Linked DNA regions of Homo sapiens: region 2 is reported to be linked to region 1. Evidence: microRNA targets listed by miRTarBase, many of them from high-throughput screens and not tested one by one. Region 1 holds a microRNA gene; the other region holds the end of a gene's coding sequence.
Evidence for each region. The annotated mature microRNA hsa-miR-6511a-3p reads CCUCACCAUCCCUUCUGCCUGC and lies in region 1 at 4,438-4,459, opposite strand. An mRNA with a match to its seed (bases 2 to 7 or 8) in the 3' UTR can be bound and repressed. Matches are read on the target gene's strand: a 7mer-m8 pairs with bases 2 to 8, a 7mer-A1 pairs with bases 2 to 7 and ends in A, and an 8mer does both.

Region 1 (7,120 bases):
CAGGAGCTGGAAGTTGCTGTGAGCCAAGATCACGCCATTGCACTCCAGCCTGGGCAACAGAGTGAGACTCCGTCTCCAAAAAAAGAAAAATGAAAACAAAAAGGGAATGCCAGAAGGGCAATTCCAATAAAGGAAAATGGAGGTATTGAAGAAACAGCCACGGGGAGGGTGCTGGCACCTCCGTCTGAGAGACGAGCTATGCAGTCAGGATCGCGGGTGGATGCATGGTCTCCCACAGTGGTAGCGATGCTCATGTCACTTGTGGGGCCACGCTACTGTGCAGAACGTGGGCTGCCCACCCTGACTGACTGGCACCTACTTCCAGCTAGGAGCTGTCCTAGTCCTCAGGGACAGTGAGTGCTCACGAGGTCATTCCCAGGATGAACACACGAGCCCTTCACACAGCACTGCAAAAACTGCCTTGTTCTGACGCCTGCGACGAGACTCACTCCCAGAGGGTGCAACCAGCACAGCCAGTGAGAGCAGGGGAGGCCCTGCCACCCCGCCGCGCCCCTCACCTGAGCCCCGGCCCCAGCCTGTCTTGACGAGGATCTCGTACTTGAAGCGGCCCCGCTGCCCACAGAAGGGGATGGCGCAGCCCCGGCTGGCATCCAACTGGTCCAGCTTGTGCAGGATGGCGGCCATGACCATGTAGGTCACCAGGCACACAGCACATGTCAGCATGACGATGTAGTTTACATCCGCTGTCGGCTCCTGTGAAGACACAGCCGCCGGGCCCAGGAGGTCACGTGCAAGCTGTGCCTTCTCAGGATAGAGCCGAGCCCACCCAGGCCCTCCTCGACTCTGCAGAGGCTCCCAGGAGCACAGGGTCACTCACAGGAAACACAAAGCGTACATGGCTTGGGGGCATGAAGAGGCTGGTGCCGAAGGCGGTGAGGTGGCGGGTGAGGCAGACGGCCTGGCGGGGCGAGGTCTCCTCCAGGGGCAGCAGCCCCTCTGTCCGCCACACCACATCCTCCTCGCTGAAGTACTGGCACAGGGACGTGTACAAGCCCACGGACACCTCCAGCGCCGACCAGCGGAAGTGGCTGGAGAGGTTCAGACGGTAACTCCCCACTGGGTCTCTGGTCCTGGGAAGGGAAGGGGCAGTGGACGTGAGCCCAGGCTCCGCCAGGTTGGATGTCGGAGTCCCAGAGCCCATACCCGGTCCAGTCCCCTCGCTGCCTGCCGTCCCCACGGGGCCCGTAACCCGGGCAATGCTGACCCATGATGCCCTGCCCTGCCCTGCCAGGCCGGCCCACAGAGCTCACCCCGGGGAAATGAAGAAGGTGTAGGGCCGGTGGTCGGCACCCTGGAGGGACTCTGGGCGGATCCTCCTGCTAGCCGAGCAGTTGCGCTCATTGGGCCGGGGCTCCGAGTGCAGGTAGACTGCCAGGTAGGGCTCGGGTTCCTCAGACAGGTAGCGGCCTGGGGCAGAACGCGCAGGTCACACGCCTGCCGGGAAGCTCAACCACCCGGGGGACACCCACGATGGCCCTCCTGAGCCCACCCTCTGCCACGGGCCTGAAAGGCCATAGGAGCCTCTGCACCAGAGCTGGCACCTGCTTCTCCGTGGCCCCCAGCTCCTCTCCGGCCAGGCCCCCAACAGCCCATGAAACAGCAAATTTCACCAGAGACACCCATGGAAGCCCTACGAGAAACGCCTTCCCCCCAAGAACAAGGCCAGGGGGCCGCGTGTGCCCCACCCGCTGCACACACCGTCCAGCAGCGTATAGTTGAGCTGCAGATGCAGCACGGCCACAGGGTTGCTGCTGTCCAGGGTGACCACAGCACCGACGGAGGCCTGGGGCTGGACCACAACGGAGTTGGCGGAGCTGCAGTGGCCCCGGGCAGCCCAGTCCGAGTTGTTGGGCACCTTCACGGTGATGGCGCGCTCTGAGGCCAGCCGCTCGATGGGGATCTGGGCGCCGGCCTGTGTCTGGAACGCCATCGAGGCCACCTTGGTGGAGACGGTGTAGTTGCTGATATAGCCAAAGAGAAAGGGATTGGAGTCCACCAGAAAGACGAGCTGCACCACGTCACTGAGGTTGGCCGGGGCCCTGCTGAAAGCCTAGGGGATGGAGAGGTGGCAGCCAGGCCCTGGGGCGCCGCCATAGCACAGCAGGCTCCGCGGGTCCGAGCGCTTGCCCTGGGCCATGATCTCCTCGCCCGCCAGCGTCACGGGCTCCTCGTTGAGCACGCGGGAGCGCGTGAGGATGCGCATGAGGGCAGAGGTCAGGTTGTAGGCCTGGGACGCCACCATCCGCAATGGTGACTCGGCTCCCAGCTCTGAGCGCTGCGGTGCCCGCACGTCTGAGCTGGCCAGGTGGATGAGGTCTCCTGCAGACAGGCGTGAGGTCAGTGCAGAGACAGGGAGGCAGAGGGAGGGTGGGGGCAGGCAAAAAGGGGGAGCTGGAGGGTGGGGGCTGGGAGAAAGGGGGAACCTGAGGGGGCAGAGAGCGAGGTGCAGGCAGAAGGAAGGGGGAAGCTGGAGAGAGAGTGGTGGAGGGGGAGGGGGAAGGGGATGGGGATGAGGACGAAGATGAGGGGGATGATGGGGAGAGGGAGGAAAAAGGAAGGAAAAGGGTAGAGAAAAGAGAAAGGGGAGAAGAGGAGGAGCAGGGGGAAAGGGAGGGGAAGGGGGATAAGGGGGATAAGGGAGGGGAAGGAGGATAAGGGAGGGGAAGGAGGATAAGGGGGATAAGAAAGATGAGGGGAATGGACAAAAGGACGGGGAGGATCGGGGGGGAAATGGAGAAAAGGGGAGAGAGATGGAGAAAGGGGAGGGAAGGGGGAGGGGAGGGGAGAGTGGAGGGCACAGAGCAGCATCTTCTTAGTCCCTCCCCACATCTGGGCCCCTCTTTACACCCTGGGTCCCCCGAGAGGCACCCTGCGTTCACACAGGACAGCAGAAAGGCTGAGGCTACTGAAGCAGGTCAGAGACCGAGGAACGCCACGGCAGGAAGGAGCCCAGGCTGGAGGCTCAGCTCCTCGGCCAAGCTGCCCGTCTGCCCTGGGGGGCTGAACCCAGTACCCTGGCAGGCATGCGGGGCGGGGTGAGCATGTGGGGCCATCCTACCATGCACTGGGCCAGCGCAGCAGCGATCTGCTGGATGTCATCCACAGTGTGGACCCTCAGGGACACCAGAGTCTCCGTGATGTTCTTGCGTATCTGGGCTCGGCGCTGCCGCTCGTGCTTGGGCTCTGCCGCCACGTCCAGGGCCCGCTCGTACTGGGGCAGGCAGGGGGCACAGCAAGCTGTCAGCAGGGCAGGAGGCCGGCAGGAGGCCAGCAGATGCCCACGACTCCCGGGGTGCAGTTACGTGCTAGATGCTGTGTGATGTGGGCACTGACCCGCAACACTGAGCTGTTTCTTCATGGGCAAAACAGGGTAAGCACATGGGCCCTCCTGGGCGGGGGCTGCATTGTGGAAAGCAGACGCCGGAGAGGGCCCGGTGGGTGTGGCTGCTGGGAGCGGAACGTCGGGGTGCTGCTTCAGGGTCACTGGGATTTATCTCTGGGGCCCGGGATGAGCCCTCCGCAAAGCTCCAGGCAGGGGAACAGGTCTTGGTCCCCAGCACGCATGCAGCAGATGTGAGGTCCCCTCCCAGGCTGCACTCACCTCGTTCAGCACAGTGACCAGGGCCAGCGAGTACTCGATGACGTGCTGGGGATCGGCCTGCCGCAGCAGCCCCGGGAGCACACTAGCGGTGAGCCGGTGCAGCCAGACTGTGAGCCCCATTGCGCTGCCGTTGGGCTCTGGGAGGGTGATGGCCAGAGACCTACGAGCAGAGGGGGGTGGTGAGCAGGTGGCAGTCTCGGGGGCGCCCTCCCACGGCCTGGCTCACCTGTTGAGGGCGACCACAGCGGCTCCCAGCTGGTCCTGCACCACCACGGCCAGGCCCACCTCGAAGTGTGGCCTGAAACCCGGGGGCAGCACGGCTCCGTAGCCGGAGAGGCTGCTCTTGTAGACACAGAACTCTTTGCAGTGGCCCTGGCAACAGCGCTGCAGCAGCAGGGCATACACCAGCGGGGCGCCAGCATCCTCCGCGTCATGCCAGCCTGAGGGATGGTCCCCACAGCATCACGGGAGGGCTCCGTGACCTCACAGAGTCGGGGGATCCCGCTGCTCCCCCTACGCAGGCCTGCACTCACCCGTGCATTTGAAGTGCACCTTGGTGGTGAGGGCGTGCACAGCGCCCAGTGGGAAGAGGCAGCAAGAGCCCCCCAGCGGCGGGCGGTTGGGGGACAGGGGGATGGAGGCGCAGCCCTCCTCCTCGCCAGAGCGGCCCAGCACCGTCAGCGTGAAGGTGTATCCCTCGCCGTCCCGCAGCACGCCCCGCCGCAGCACCAGTCACATGCCTGCGCTGCCCGTGGATGTGGTGGTCTCATCCAGCACCAGCGTCTTGTTGCTGAACGTACGTGCAGCCCACCGCTGCAGGCAGAAGGGATGGTGAGGGGGCGCAACCCTCTGCCCTGTCAGCCCCACTTCTGCCTGCAGGCCCCGTCCCCTCGGCCATGGGACCCATCCCCAACCCGCCCACACCCCGCTCAACACTCACCCCTCGCTTGGAGCCGCTGCTGCAATTGAGGCAGCGGCCCTCCAGGTACACGTAGGAGCTGCGGCTCACTTCGTACACGGCCTGTGCCTTGCAGGACACACACTCCAAGGACACAATGGGCACCCGGCCACTGCGGATCAGCACCTGGCGTGGGAGTGGGGTTACCTCCAACACAGGTCTATTTGGCCTGCTGGAAGGTCTGGGGGACCCGTGGAGGATGCTGCTCCCAAACTCCAGGTTTCCCAGGGGCCTGGCCACTGCCGGTGAGCTCACCCCCTCCCAGGATACTCATCCGGTTTGCCACCTTCCAACCTGGGCGGCGGAAGGGCATACACAGGGCAGAGGACACTGGGGTGTGTGTTCTGGTGTACTGGAGCCAGCTGGACCCTGGCAGGAGGCAGGCAATGCTCACTGAGGGCCCCTGGGGGGATGCGTGTGGGAACAGACGTATGTGGGGGTGTGAGGACCGCAGTTGCCACGTAGGCCTGACTCACAGACTCCTGCAGCCCTTAGCCAGGGCCTGGGTCAGGAGGCTGAGCCGGGATGGAACCTGCTCCCACACCCTCCCCTCAGACGACCCCTCTGGGCAGACCCCCAATCAGGCCCGTTGAGGAAAGCAGGGACTGGGGAACAGACACCCACTCTGGGGCACCAGCAGGCCCCGCCTGACAGCAGCAGGAGCAGCCACCACGGGCTCAGGGTCACCAAGCCTCCTGGCCGGTCCAGAGTGGGGAGCATGAGGGTGAGAACCGGCCCACCACATCCAGCAACAGGGACATGGGCTGGGGACAGTGGCTGCCTCTGGGGTGGGAAGGGGCTCTTCCTCACTGTTGGTATTGCTGGGGGACTGTGTAGCTTTTGTCACTAGAGCATATGTGGCTTGAAGACTGTATGTGGAACTGTGGCAGGTTTGGAAGGAAGCAAAGCTGAAGCAGGCTGTCGTGTTACATAGAATTTGCATCAGAAACAGAGAGGGGAGAGCGCGCGGCCTCCACCAGCACTAAAACACGGAAAACAGTAGATGAGCAGGGAGGCTGGGCTGTCCAAGGCAAGTGGCCGAGGGGCGGGCGGCACCCACCGTCTGGTTGGTGGCCTCCTCCTTGTGGCCGGCCTTCCACACGGTGAGGCTGAAGGTGTACTCCACGCCAGCTGCCAGCCGTTCCCGTGGAATGGTGACCGTGCTGCTCCCGCGGGGCCCAAAGTTCAGCGCACACCCGCCAGCCTCCCTCTGCAGGCCGAGAACAAGGGGCGACGTGGCCCGAGAACCCCATCCAGTTTTAAAGCAGAGCCCGGCCCAGGAGACAGCGCGGGAGACCCCCTCCCCATGCTGGGACGGGGCCCACCAGGCACTGAGGACGGGCCAGCCCTGGTGGCAAGCTGGGTGTTCTCTGGGCTCATGGGTGTGGACGGGTGAGGGGCAGGGAGGACGGCCCTGCCACGCACTGACCTGTGTCGAAGCCACACAGGCCCACTGGAAACTGAGCGGCGTCTGGTCGCCGTCCTCCAGGTTGGGGTCGTAGGACTCGCTCCCATCCAGCACCAGGTCCTGTGTGTCTGACCACACGCGGTAGGAGCCACCCTCAGTGATGGGCACCAGGCGCTCGGGGGCCACCGTCACATTGGCCTGGATGCTCCGTGCCAGTGGCGTGTCCCCAAATGACACGACAAACACAAAGCAGTAGTGCCCCACAGGCAGCGCCAGCCGCGGCAGCACCAGCTGAGGCCGGCTCACGTCCACGCCGGGCAGGGCCACACGCGCCGGGCACCCCGGCCGCTGGCAGCTGGCGGTGCGGTACACCTCCCAGCGGTACTCAGTCTGGTAGGTGACACAGTCGCGCAGGTCAACGTAGGCATCCAGGCAGTTGCGCTGTGATCGTCGCATCAGCACCTGCAGGGGCAGGACCACGTCCACCTCCGGCTCCCGGCAGGCCAGCACCTGGACGGTCACCGTGGCCTGCGCCACGAAAAAGCTCACCAGGTTGGAGGCGTTCACCTGCACGCGGTAGTCCCCAGGCCTCAGGTAGGAGTGCTCGGCCCTGGGCTTATCTGTGTCCTGCCCTGGGGACCCATCCCCAAAGTCCCAGTGGTAGGCCACGCGCCGGGGGCTGGGGCTGGTGGCGGCCTCAAACTGCGCCAAGCGGTTGGTGAAGCAGGGGCCGCTCCGCAGGGCCACATACTGGACGGCGTCCTGAACCTCCAGCACCAGCGTGCGGTTCTCACTGCCCAGGGCGTTGAAGGCACGCACCTGGATCTCCAACAGCCCCGCGGCCACGGCGTGTAGGTGACGTCGCGGCCCGACAGGATGAACAGAGAGTCGCCCCGGACCTTCTGCAGCGAGAAGTACCAGGCGTAGGCGACCCGAGAGCCGCGCTGCACGCGGGCTGTGAAGTTCCTCTCAGTGCCCATGGCGATGCCAGGCTCACAGCAGTTGGGCACCTGCAGCCCGCTCACGGCCTCCAGCACCACGATGCGCACCTGCGCCTGGGCCCAGCTCACGTGGTTTTTGCCCTGCACGCTCACCACGTGGTCTCCGATGCGGGGGAAGCTGTGGGAGAAAC
Region 2 (7,120 bases), not on the chromosome of region 1:
CCAGTGGTGGCAGGGATCGCAGAATGGGCGCAGCTTGGCAGGAGCCTCATAGACTCCTCGGTGGCCAGGAGCCCTCGACCTGGGACGAGCTGGGCGAGGCTCTTCACGCTGGGGAGAAGTCCTTCGAATGCAGGGCGTGCAGCAAAGTGTTCGTGAAGAGCTCCGACCTCCTCAAGCACCTACGCACCCACACCGGGGAGCGGCCCTACGAGTGCACCCAGTGCGGCAAGGCCTTCAGCCAGACGTCGCACTTGACGCAGCACCAGCGCATCCACAGCGGCGAGACGCCCTACGCGTGCCCCGTGTGCGGCAAGGCCTTCCGGCATAGCTCCTCGCTGGTGCGGCACCAGCGCATCCACACGGCCGAGAAGTCCTTCCGCTGCTCCGAGTGCGGCAAGGCCTTCAGCCACGGCTCCAACCTCAGCCAGCACCGCAAGATCCACGCGGGTGGGCGTCCTTATGCTTGCGCACAGTGTGGCCGCCGCTTCTGCCGCAACTCGCACCTGATCCAGCACGAGCGTACGCACACAGGCGAGAAGCCCTTCGTATGCGCGCTCTGCGGTGCTGCCTTCAGCCAGGGCTCCTCGCTCTTTTTGCACCAGCGCGTGCACACAGGCGAGAAGCCCTTCGCCTGCGCCCAGTGCGGCCGCTCCTTTAGCCGCAGCTCCAACCTCACCCAGCACCAGCTCCTGCACACGGGCGAGCGGCCCTTCCGCTGCGTGGACTGTGGCAAGGGTTTCGCCAAGGGCGCCGTGCTGCTCAGCCACCGGCGCATTCACACGGGCGAGAAGCCCTTCGTGTGCACGCAGTGTGGCCGCGCCTTCCGTGAGCGCCCTGCCCTCTTGCACCACCAGAGGATCCACACCACAGAGAAGACCAATGCCGCAGCACCAGACTGCACCCCGGGGCCAGGTTTCCTTCAGGGACATCATCGGAAGGTGCGCCGGGGAGGGAAGCCAAGCCCAGTCCTGAAGCCAGCGAAGGTCTGAGGTCACAGGTCGCAGCCCAACCCTTTCTTGGCCTTCTGTGAATCCCTTCCACAGCTAAAGGGTCCGAGTGCTCTTCAGATCCACGATGGGGAAAAGCTCTGTGCCTGAGAGTCAGGGACGAGGGAGACCCTTTGGCTGTGGTTCCATTTGCAGGTGGGGACAGGATTTGCCAGTTTAGTCATAGCTCACACCTCCATCCTCAAAGAGGTAACACTGCAGAAACATCAGAGGGAGGACATGTCAGCTGGAACTCTGGTGGGGCTGAGGCTGTAGTTGGGGCCATAGGACGCCGACAAAGGCAGCGCTGCATGGTGGTGCTACTTCATGTGTTATGAGAGTGGATGCTGAGGTGAGGGGGATGCGGACATGGGGTAGGATGACCTAGAGAAACTTATGATGTCTGCACACAAACTGGCCGCTAGACGGACGCTGAGGACATTTTCCCCCTGAGGCCTCTATTCAAGGCTTCCTGGGGGCCATCTCAGCAAACAGGAGACTACAGGGGACTGGGGATCAGGGTGTGGCCTGTGAGTGTCAGCCTCCTCCTCGGAAAAAGAAAAGCTTTGGGTCAACTCAGCATCATGTTTGCAGATGCTGACAGACGGGATCCTAATGAGAGTCAATGTGTGCTCACTGCCAGCTCCTGGGCTGTGCTCTGGTCAGCCAGGTGTGAGGGCCTGGCCTGGGGTCACACAGCTGACTCAGGAGAGGAATGCCCATGGTTCTCAGCATTGGAAGGACAAACCTAGGATGATGGCTTTCCAGTGGCACTCGTTCAGGTTTTCGTCCAAGTCTCAGCTTGGCCAAGGCCTGTCGCTCACTCATTTACAAAAGTCGATGTGAGGAGGAGCCTTTACACCTGTGGAGACAGTGATAGCTTTGGAGCAGATAAGGTGGAGCTGCTCATTTTTGCTGGATTTGGTGGCCGATCCCCGCCCCCACCCCCACCCCCTCCATCTCACCTTTCCCTTGTTATGCCTCCTCAATTGGAGGCTGGACAGAGAGCTGAATAGGAAGGACTTGCCATTACCTAAGGCCATGTGTGACAGCCTCCTGAGGACCTCCCCAACCCAGTGTGATGGGCCTGCATGGCAGAGACAAAAGGGTAGACTGGGGGTCATTTGCTTCCTGTGGCCTTAAGCCTACTAGGCCCCATCCTTACCTGAGACCTCACCTCCAAGAAATTAATGGTCTTTTCAATGGAGAAAAAAAAAGACTAGTATTTGCAACTTCAAATAGATGTAGTTTCCTTTACAGCCGTGTGGACCTCCACAGCACAGCCTCCTGTCTCTATTCCAGGGTATGATTCAGTTGTTTGTTTGTTTTTGAGACAGAGTCTCAAGGCAACTCTTCTTGCCCAGGCTGGAGTGCAATGGCACAATCTCGGCTCACCGCAACCTCCGTCTCCCAGGTTCAAGTGATTCTCCTGCCTCAGTCTTCTGAGTAGCTGGGATTACAGGCGCCCACCACCATGCCCGGCTAATTTTGTATTTTTAGTAGAGACAGGGTTTCTCCATGTTGGTCAGGCTGGTCTCGAACTCCCAACCTCAGGTGATCTGCCCATCTTGGCCTCCCAGAGTGCTGGGATTACAGGCGTGAGCCACTGCGTTTGTTTTTCATGAAGCGTCTCAGTCTGTCGCCCAGGCTGGAGTGCAGTGGAGCAACCTCGGCTCTGCCTCTTGGGTTCAAGCCATTCTCCTGCCTCAGCCCCTCCAGTAGCTGGGATTACAGGCTTGCACCACCATACCTGGCTAATTTTTGTATTTTTAGTAGAGACGGGGTTTCACCATGTTGGCTGGGCTGGTCTCAAACTCCTGACCTCAAGTGATCGGCCCATCTTGGCCTCCCAAAGTGGTGAGATTACAGGCGTGAGCCACTGCGCCTGCCTACATACCATGATTTTAAAGTTGCAGCTGTTTCCTATTGCTTGTAACTCAGTCTTGTCTTTTCAATGGTAACCAATTTCTGTTTCAAACTGAAAGGTTCATGAGGGTGAGTTCTTCTATTAGTCTGTTTTGTGTCACTATAAAGGAACACCTAAGGCTGGGTAATTTATAAAGAAAAGAGGATTAATTGGCTCATGGTTCTGCAGGATGTACAGCCATGGCACCAGCATCTGCATGGCTTCTGGTGGGACCTCAGGAAGCTTGCAATCATGATGGAACATGAAGGAAGAGCTGGCATATCACATGGCAAGACAGGAAGCAAGGCGGGGGGGAAGTGTCACACATTTTTTTTTTTTTTTTTGAGGAGTCTCGCTCTGTTGTCCAGGCTGGAGTGCAGTGGCACGATCTCGGCTCATTGCAACCTCCGCCTCCCGGGTTCACGCCATTCTCCTGCCTCAGCCTCCCGAGTAGCTGGGACTACAGGTGCCCGCCACCACGCCCAGCTAATTTTTAATATTTTTAGTAGAGACGGGGTTTCACCGTGTTAGCCAGGATGGTCTCGATCTCCTGACCTTGTGATCCGCCCGCCTTGGCCTCACAGCAGAGTGGTGGGATTATAGGCGTGAGCCACCGCGCCCGGCCCACTTTTTTTTTTTTTTTTCTGAAATGGAGTTTTGCTCTTGTTGCCCAGGCTGGGGTGCAATGGCACGATCTCAGCTCACTGCAACCTCTGCCTCCTGGGTTCAAGTGATTCTCCTGCCTCAGCCTCCTGAGTAGCTGGGATTACAGGTGTGCACCACCATGTCAGCTAATTTTTGTATAATATTTTTAGCAGAGACAGGGTTTTGCCATGTTGGCCAGGCTAGTCTCAAATTCCTGGCCTCAAGTGATCCACCCGCCTCAGCTTCCCAAAGTGTTGGGATTACAGGTGTCAGCCACCGCACCCAGCCCATCACACACTTTTAAACAACCAAATCTTTCATGAACTCAGAGCAAGAGCTCACTTCTCACCAAGGGGGATGGTGGCAAGCTATTCATGAGGAATCTGCCCCCATACTATAGTTTGGATGTTTGTCCCCTCCAAATCTCATGTTGAAATGTAATCCTCAATGTTGGAGATGGGGCCTGGTGAGAGGTGTTTGGGTCATGGGGGTGGATCGCTCTTGAATCTCTTGGTGCTGTCCTCAAGGTAGTGAGTTCTCACAAGATTTGGTTATTTAAAAGTCTGTGGCACCTCCTTCCTTTCTCTCTTGCTCCTGCTCTCACCAGGTGAGATGCCTCCTCCCCCTTTACCTTCTGCCATGATTGTAAGCTTCTTGAGAACCTAGCAAGAAGCAGATTCTGAAGCCATGCTCGTACAGCCCTCAGAACAGTGATCCAATTAAACCTCTCTTCTTTATAAATTACACAGCCTCAGGTATTTCTTTATAGTAATGCAGGAATGGCCTAATATACCTCATGATCCAACACCTCCCACTAGGCCCCATGTCCAACACTGGAGATCACATTTCAACATGAGATTTGGAGGAGACACACATCCAAACCATATCAGTTCTCTTGTCCCTGAGTGAAGAGGCACTTGCTCCCTCTAAACCCAATTCTAGGTGACTAGAGATTTATGAAGGTGTCGGGATGTTTGTTCATGATGCATAGTGGCCTCATAGGGTCTCCCTACTTCTTCTGCAAGAAGAACACCTTCAGGGGCTTTCAGCTCAGCCAGAAGATTCACATAAAGGTTGTTCATCTGGTACCTTGAGCACTCTGCCAACACAGGTGATCACAGATTCCAAGACACATAAAAGAGTGAATCACAACTCACTGGTGACTCATTGAGGAGTGATGCTCACAAAGCAACACACTTCGTCTAAATACACTGTACTAACCTTGGTCACTTTTGAAAAGGTATTTCTACAATTATTTGAAACTGCTCATGAAAACTGAGCTTTCCCTTAAGGAGCAACCCCCCCACCCTTCGAAACCTATGGAGATCCTATTTCCAAAAACTTAGGTAAATGGACCCAGGTCACTCGAGATGACCCTAAAATGCAGTGGCCAAAACGGAGATCTTTTGAAATTCCTAAAGTAATATATTTGTGTGCACAATAGGAAACTTAATATGTTTGTTCTAAAACCAGACAAATTGGATGGGAGGCCTACTTTCTGTTTGTGCAGGCTATACTCTGATAAGATATTTGAAAGGTTTTTTAAAAAGAGCTCTATAGGCCAGGCACAGTGGCTCATGCCTGTAATTCCAGCACTTTGGGAGGCCAAGGTGGGCGGATCACCTGAGGTTGGGAGTTCGAGACCAGCCTGACCAACATGGCGAAACCCCATCTCTACTGAAAAATACAAAAATTAGCCAGGCATGGTGGTGCGTGCCTGTAGTCCCAGCTACTTGGGAGGCTGAGGCAGGAGAATCACTTGAACCTGGGAGGCGGAGGTTGCAGTGAGCTATGAAACTATAGCAAACTCCAGCCTGGGCGACAGAGTGAGACTCCGTCACAAAAGTAAGTAAATAAAATACAATGAATTCTATGGTCAGATGTCAGCTTAATTAAAAGCTGATATTCAGGCTTTTTTTTTTTTTTTAAGAAAAAATACCTTTCTGCTTTTTCTCATTTGGAGCCTGTTTCTGGGAATTTTTTTTTTTTCTGTTGACTGAAACCCCTTTTTACATATGTTTAGTCCCTTTGTTTGCTTCTTTTCTTGTTAGTATGATGTAAAGTTTTATTGGCCTTCTGAAAAACTTAAAATCTCCCCAAATTGGCTTAGAGCTCTCCCATTTTCTTCTACTTTTTCTTCCTTTAGCTATCTTTGATACCACATAAAGAAATCTAGAGGAGTCTTCTAATATCTCTGAGACCCTTTGAGGAACACAGTAAAGTGTCACATACACCTTTTATGGAGTCTTCTGTCTTCCTCATGGAATCCTAAGTGTAGCAGGCAGTTTATCTTAGGTCTAAAGCTCTGATCTCTTTTACACTGAGTTCTCTGACCTTTTGGCTTGGGGGGTACCAAGGGTTACTTTGTTCTATGAAAGAACATGATCTTTGGGTGTGCACTGGCTGGCAAGTTACTGGCAAGGGCTGCAGTTTTGGCTGATAGCAGTTGTTTTCAGTGAGTGGTTATTACTGCAGGGTGTACTAATTCCTTTGCATGTTTAAATAAGAAAAGTATGGTTTGAACACTTGGAGACTTATAGAAACACTCATCACCAAGGGGGAAGAATCCTTTGGGAGATGGGCTGATCACAGATCACAGAGTGGGCTAATTGGTGCTGGGTGTCCCACCAGCATCAGGGAATGTCCATGCAGTGAGGTGCACTGTGGAAACACAGCCCTGTCCTGTGGTATTTCCATCTTGTGGGGTCCTCAAGATTCCATTTTAAAGTGGAATCCTTGATTTTATTTATTTATTTTTATTTTTTGAGATGGAGTCTCGCTCTGTTGCCCAGGCTGGAGTGCAGTGGCGTGATCTCAGCTCACTGCAAGGTCCACCTCCCGGGTTCACGCCATTCTCCTGCCTCAGCCTCCCGAGTAGCTGGGACTACAGGCGCCCGCCACCACCCCTGGCTAATTTTTTTGTATTTTTAGTAGAGACGGGGTTTCACCATGTTAGCCAGGATGGTCTCGATCTCCTGACCTCGTGATCCGCCCGCCTCGGCCTCCCAAAGTGCTGGGATTACAGGCGTGAGCCACTGCGCCTGGCCTGGAATCCTTGATTTTTAAAGCTCTAGATGTTCTGCCTTTCAACTGTGCCAGTTTTTTACATAGATGGGGTTTCTCTATGTTGGTCAGGCTGGTCTCAAACTCCTGACCTCGTGATCCGCCTGCCTCGGCCTCCCAAAGTGCTGGGATAACAGGCGTGAGCCACCGCACCTGGCCTATGTTGAGTTTTAGGCCACAAAAAATTGACCAAAAATTTTTTGACAATTGCATCTTTAACCATGGACATTTTAAGTTTTGTCCTCAGCTGGGCGCGGTGGCTTATGCCTGTAATCTCAGCACTTTGAGAGGCCAAAGCAGGCAGATCATTTGAGGTCGGGAGTCGGAGACCAGCCTGACCAACATGGAGAAACCCCGTCTCTAATAAAAATCCAAAATTTGCTGGGTGTGGTGGCCCATGTCTGTAATCTCAGCTACTCAGGAGGCTGAGGCAGAAGAATCGCTTGAACCCAGGAGGCGGAGGTTGCAGTGAGCTGAGATCGAGCCATTGCACTCCAGCCTGGGCAATAAGAGCAAAACT

Region 2: miRTarBase lists ZNF324B as a target of hsa-miR-6511a-3p. The part of its 3' UTR that is shown has no 7-base or 8-base seed match.

What each region holds. Positions count from the first base shown.
Region 1 is chr16:16,366,258-16,373,377 of GRCh38, reverse strand. MIR6511A3 (microRNA 6511a-3) reads right to left here and starts at 4,502; the gene lies at 4,436-4,502. It also overlaps the pseudogene PKD1P2. RefSeq lists enhancers at 1,733-2,633, 3,605-4,517.
Region 2 is chr19:58,455,591-58,462,710 of GRCh38, forward strand. It overlaps ZNF324B (zinc finger protein 324B), which reads left to right. Exons shown (of 4, transcript NM_207395.3): 4 at 1-2,243. The coding sequence ends at 989. Among named protein-coding and RNA genes, the nearest start is that of ZNF324B, 7.5 kb to the left of the region's middle.